2 separate regions of the Homo sapiens genome follow, and region 1 is reported to be linked to region 2. Evidence: microRNA targets listed by miRTarBase, many of them from high-throughput screens and not tested one by one. Region 2 holds a microRNA gene; the other region holds the end of a gene's coding sequence.

Region 1 (3,126 bases), not on the chromosome of region 2:
CTCTCCCTAACCCTCTCTCACCCCTCCTCACCTTCTCCCTCACTCCCTCTCTCACCCCTCCCTCCCCCCAACTCCTTCCCTCACCTCTCCCTCACACCCTTTCACCTACCTCCTTCACCCCCCTCACCCCTCCCTCACCTCTCCCTCACCCCTCCCTCACCCCTCCCTCACCCCTCATTCACCCCCCTCCCTCACCCCTACCTCACCCCCTCCCTCATCTCCTTCCTCACCTACCTCACACACCCCCTCATTCCCCTTCCTTCATCTCCCTCCCTCATCCACACCCCCTTCCTCACTACCCCTCTTTCCTTCACTCACTCTCCCTCACAACCCTCTGCATTTCACCTCCAGCTCTCCCACAACCCCTCCCTCACACCAAAGCTTTGGTAATGGGAGTTCCCTCGACCCCAGCATCTCCTACCAGCTCCTGCACAGTTCTGGATGTCAGAACAGCATCCCATGTTCAGGTGTGGTAGCTTGGAGGAAACTGCTCTTCTTACTGGGGTATCATGAGGGCTTCCTGGAGGAAGTGGCATTCCTGAAGGATGAGTTGATGAGAGGGGCTGGTAAGGAGTCCCAAGCCGAGGGAGCAGCACGGTTTTTGCCTGAACACCTGCAGCACAGGTGTGGAGGCGCAGGACACGGCCATCTGTGGGTGTAGTGTGGAAGCGGGGACTCAGGGCAGCCAGGAGGGCCTCACGTGCCCAAGGGTGCCTTCCCCTCCCCTGGGGACCTAGTTCACTGCTGGTCACAGGAACTGGTTGGCCCGGTGGTTAGCAGAGCTGGGCCTGATGGGCGGCTGAGGCACAGACATGGGCGCTTATCATTCTCCCTCCTCCAGGTTCCAGCCTCAAAGGGTGGGGCAACCACCAGGCGGGAGGCGGCAGATGCAAGAGTAGGCCTGGCTGGTGGTCGAGGATGTCACAGACTCAGCCCCAGGCTTGAGTCCAGTTGGTCAGGGATGGAGCTGGGGGTAGCTGGGCGCTGGGAGGGCAGTCCAAGGACAGTGGGGCTCAGGACCTGGCTGACATGGGCCTCGGGGGAGGGCGGTGGGTGCACACAGATGGACAGGGGAGTCAGCAGTCCTCGGGCCAGGCAGCCCCTCACTGAGGAATGACACCCTGCCCAAGCGGCCTGGGGAGTCAGGGCCTCAGGTCATGTCAGGCAGCCCTGAGGAGGTGCGTGTGTCCTCCACGGCCTCAGGTGGGGCCACCTAGGACTTGCCCAGGCCACACACTGGCCTGTGCCCTGCCTGCCTCGGAGGTTTCCTACCTTCAGCTGACGCAGTCATAGAATGTTACTGTCCCTGGAGACCCCTCCTTCACCCTCCAGGGGCAAGTCACACCTGTCTACACCCTTCACCCAGACACCTGTCACCTTCACTAAGTGTGTCTCCTTTACCCAGGCATTAAAGGCATCTGTAGCAAGGTGGTAAATTCCTAAAAGGATTTCTGAGGGGGAGGGGGTGCTGTGACAGAGCGCAGGCTCAAGGAGGAGTCCCGAGGGAGGGATCCCATTTCACAGGTGGGCAAAGGGGCTGAGACTGGAGCACAGGCCCTGGCCCCATGGCTCAGGGTGGAGGAGGGAGAGGGCAGCTAGGGCTGTCCCCCGGCCACCCCACTCAGTGGGCGCATGGCAGCCTGGCAGGTGGGAGGGCTCTGAGGCACTGGCTTTCCTTGCCCCTGGCCCTCAGTTCCCTGAAGGGGCAGGCACTGTGATGACCCAAGCAGCAGGGCTGCATGGTAATGGGATGTCATGTCCTGGAGCTCCATACTCCACCGGCAGCCTGGTTCCCACTGTCATGTGCGCTGGGACCCTGCGACTGAGCAGGGTCCCTCCAGGAGCTGCGCCCATAGCCTCGCCCTGCCAGTGGCATCGCCCCAGCATTAGGGGTTCCCAGCACCTTCTGGGGCAAAGCCTGGGTGCCTCCAGAAACCCCCTGGAAAATGCAAACTCATGATGATTCTGTGGGTTGACAAATATTCTCGTTTCCCCACAAAAAGGCTTGGGGGAGGAGCTGACAAGGGGAGGGAATCAGGTGTCCGGTCCAGGCTCAGCAGCTGGGGTGGGGGGAGTGGGTGTGTGTGTGTGTGTGTGTGTGTGTGTGTGTGTGTGTGTGTGTGGCACATGAGGTGTGAGGAGGGGGCAGTGTGGGGAACATCTGAGGTGGGGAGGCAGTGCCTGGCGGCTTATCCGAGGCAGGTGAGTCCATGTGGAGGGCGTCCTGTCTGGGGGGTCTGTGCCAGCAGCTGGATGTGGGGATGCTGGGAATACCAGGGCCAGCCCCAGCTGGAGCAGCCATAGCTGCAGTCATCTCTGAAACACCCCTGAGACTGAGGAACGAGGCAGGCTGAGAGAACCTGAACATTTAATATGGTCAGCACCTTGTAAGGTGAAGGTGTGTTTTTTACACAAATTATAAATAATGAAAAATATGCATTTAGAAAAAGAAGCAGCAGTCCCCTTGGCGGGCCGGCTCGAGGACTCTTTGGTTGAGTGGCAGGTGAGGCCCTGGGTCCAGGGTCTGTCAGAGCCCCCCTAGGTCATCTGCCAGGAAGGCCAGCAGGTAGCGGCTGACATGTCTGTCGATGATGACAGGCGAGAAACCGAGGACGCGCCGGGTCCCTGGCAGGCCCTTGGGGTCTAGAAGACAAAAGGGGAGGCAAAAGCTCAAGAACCAGTCCCAGAGGTGAATTCTGTGTTTCCATCCCTCCTGCGGGGGTGGGTGGGAACAGGCACTGGGACAGGGTGCTCCCTCCCGGTCATGGTCTCGGCTTGAGTTGAAAAGACAAGAATTAGGGCAGATTCCAGAGCCCCCAGCTCCCACCCGAGTGACCCACGGGCCTTTGAGTCCTGCCATGTGTGCCTGTGTCCCCTCACCCAGTAAGCCTCCCAGCACGACAAACTCAGGCATCACAGAAAAGGGAGACGGGGCAGGCCAGGCTGGGTGCCAGTAGAGGGGCCCTGGAAGGTTCCTGTGCATCAGGCCTGTGGCTGCTGGAGAGACCCAAGGCCCTGGGGCACGTGACCTGCTCAAGGGCCCCACATGGTTCAAGGTCACAGATGTGGCAGGGCTTTGTAACACCCAGAGTCCTGGCTGCACCCCTCCTCCCGCTAGAGGTCATC
Region 2 (3,126 bases):
TCACATCTCCTGCATTCCGTTTAGCGGAATCAATTAGGCAAGACAGACCCTCAGATTCCCCACCCCCTTTCCATTTTTGTCAGGTCTATATACGTCCTAATTATTTCAGTTTGGGATGCCAGAGCTGTTTCCTGGATAGACCTGATCATCCTTAAACAAAAAGAGAGGAGGCGCACACGTGGGTTGTGGCGTAAATGTCACTTTCATTTCCAATGCTAGGCGCAGAGTAAGACAGAACATTTTTTTAACACTTTGACAAGAGGGGAGGCGATCTCGTCTCCATCATGTCTTTCTGCTTCAGTAGCTTCCTCAAGGAAACCCTCTTGGAACAGAGAAGCATCTGTCCTTGTATTTTGAATAGAAGAATAAAAATCAGCCCTTGCTTTTTTTTTTTTTTTTTTCATTTTGCCTGCTAGCTCTAAGTCCTCAGTAGATACAAATTATTAACCTTCCAGTATAAACTTTTCTGAAAGTCTAATTTCGTACAAATTGACATACAGCCCAAATACATGTAAAGTAATTTCCAAGCACAATCTTCAAATTTTGAGAGGGAGGTGCCTCCCAAAGGAACTGCCCAAGTCTACATATTATGGAATCATTTTTAAACTAGGTACCAGACATCTCTGCAACACCTTTCTAAGAAAAAAATCCCTGATATAACTTTTGCCTTAAAATAGAACAAACTGCACATGCATCTTTACTCATTATCACTATACACTTCTCCTTTGCAGCTGCAACAACCCCTCTCAAGACATATCTGGAACCTTGATATTTTAGCATGTGTGTGTCATTTAATTTTCTCTCATCCCACCTTTAATCATAAGGAAAAAAACAAAACAAAAACAAAGTTAGATTCAATAAGTATTCCTGACCTTTCTGGTTTTTACTGTCTCTCGGCTGTAGTCTTTCATTCTCACACGCTCCCCGGCGATCTTGAAGGAGTTTTTACTTTCGGTTATCTAGCTTTATGAAGACCAATACACTCATACAGCTAGATAACCAAAGATAACAACTCGCTTCCCACACAGGCCTCTGTCTTCCTCTTGCCAGACTCCAGGTCCTGATCCTTTCTGGCAGTACCGAAGAGTGGTCGTCCAGGATACTTGCCGCGCTTAAGATTCCTCCTTTTATGTAAATATGACCTGGTTTCTGTTTGTGTGTGTGCGCGGCTAAAACATCCAAACGAGATCTGTTGCCTTCAGAGTTTATTCCGAACTTTTCTTTTTCCTTTCAGCAAGTAATCTCCGGCAGCGTTAGCCAACAATTCATCTATTAATATCAGAAAATAAAACCAGCTATTAAGGTGCAGCAAGCTGTTACGAGTGAGCAGCAGCATCCGTCCCTTCACAGGCCTCTATTTGCATTGTAAATTGCTTCTTTCTCACGCAAGACTCTTTAGCCTCTCTCTATAGAGATGTATAAAGCCAACGGCAATTTCCAGCGCAGGTTAAGGAGGAAGGAAAAAAAAATCCCATTCTATAGAAGTGACAGCTGATTCAAGGATCTGTTCCTGATCCTTTTTGGTTAGGCACCATGGCTTTTTACCAAGCGGTGGCAGCTTGATTGCACATATCTTGTGTGTATGTGTTTTAGGGGGAAGATCCTCGATTTCACAGGGCTTCTAGGCTGGGAAGGAGAAGATGCCGTCTTGCTGGCCTGCTGCTGCCCCCGGTCTGAAAGAAGGAGAAAAGGGCCATCATTGGAGGGGCTTTCACTGCCAAATTGTGGACCAGCCCGGCAAGGTCAAAGGTTCGAGACCGCGGGAGACCAAGGTAATGATGATGTCATGAGAAATCTCAAGTACATGGTTATTGATATGCATCAGTGATCAGCCAACTGCCCCACGCCTGCTGCCCGAGCAGCGGCAGCGACAGCAGCAGTAGCGGCAGCATTGCAACAATCCCTATTTTCTCAATCAACATCTCTTCCGCTAGCACTACCGACTGCTCCTGGAAAAGCAACCCGCGGCCTTTTACCTCCTCCGTGCTAGTGTAGATCGTTCTAGTATCCAAAGACTGGAAGAAATCTCTCTCTAAGGACAGATAAAAGCATTTCAGATCTGGGGAACGTCTTTGCCTGCATTTTTCTTCTGGCAGATTGCATAGGCAGACAGATGGAAGGCACTTTGCTATTGCTTAAAGCAGGGCCTCGTTTTCTGGGGCTGGGAATCAGATCTGTATTACGCAGTGAGTCGATGTGTGATTACATTGACAATTTGCTCTGGTGGTGTGTTTTTAATGGCTTCACAGCTCAGTCATGTTTTGTATCTATGTACCATGGCGATAGGGCAGCATATTTTGTTCTGTAAGTTCGAACTGAATGCTCTAAGCAAGCGGACTTCATCGTGGTTTTTAAAAAATGACTACATATGTAGGGTGTGTGCGTTAGAATGCAGCACAGGTAAACCTTGCAGCAATAGTTTCTAATGCTGTACACAACTCTGCTGTAATGAAAATCCTGAGCCTTTGTCTATTGTTTTAAACATCAATTTTCATACAAAAGGATAATGTAATAGTCTTGCTTCTGAAACTATGAAAAAAAACGTTGTTACCTCGTGAAGAACACATATAAAACACCTGGATGTTAAGAGCATAACTCTGCCCTACCTTCCCCTTCTCCAACCCCCACCTTTCTTCTATCTAGAGGGGAATGTTGTTTTATTAATTAATTAGCCTCATTCCTTTTCTTAGAACTTTTCAAAGTGTGAATATGATCACTTCAAAGAGTCCTTTTCTTCTTCTCTCTCCTTAGTAATGAGTAATCTATGTCTAACTCATCTATAATACATGCAGTTGTAATATTCAAATGTCCCTCAACAGAACATCTAAGATAGTCTACATTAAATTCATATTTACCAAGGGTGAACCTTATGAACTGCTTTTCAAAATTTCAAGTTATGTTTGGTCATATTGCTATTCTTTAAAATATATGCTATTAGAGTAATCTTAATATTCATTGCACACATGACTACTTTATCACAATACTCTCAATTCTATAGATTATTTTCCCCAACAACTAAAACACTTTTGGAATTAACATACACTCTTTCATTAATTCAGTGACTTATTCATTTATGACATGAATGTGAACATGCTTACTGAATTATATACAGAGCACATATATGTA

What was found. The annotated mature microRNA hsa-miR-9-5p reads UCUUUGGUUAUCUAGCUGUAUGA and lies in region 2 at 984-1,006, opposite strand. An mRNA with a match to its seed (bases 2 to 7 or 8) in the 3' UTR can be bound and repressed. Matches are read on the target gene's strand: a 7mer-m8 pairs with bases 2 to 8, a 7mer-A1 pairs with bases 2 to 7 and ends in A, and an 8mer does both.
Region 1: the mRNA of CARD19 is a reported target of hsa-miR-9-5p. Seed matches in the 3' UTR shown: 8mer at 2,486-2,493.

The regions. Positions count from the first base shown.
Region 1 is chr9:93,112,509-93,115,634 of GRCh38, reverse strand. It overlaps CARD19 (caspase recruitment domain family member 19), which reads right to left. Exons shown (of 6, transcript NM_032310.5): 6 at 2,352-2,643. The coding sequence ends at 2,528. Among named protein-coding and RNA genes, the nearest start is that of CARD19, 18 kb to the right of the region's middle. RefSeq lists enhancers at 338-1,285, 1,286-2,234.
Region 2 is chr5:88,665,919-88,669,044 of GRCh38, forward strand. It overlaps MIR9-2 (microRNA 9-2), which reads right to left and starts at 1,021; the gene lies at 935-1,021. The region is part of intron 2 of MIR9-2HG (MIR9-2 host gene); the gene reads right to left.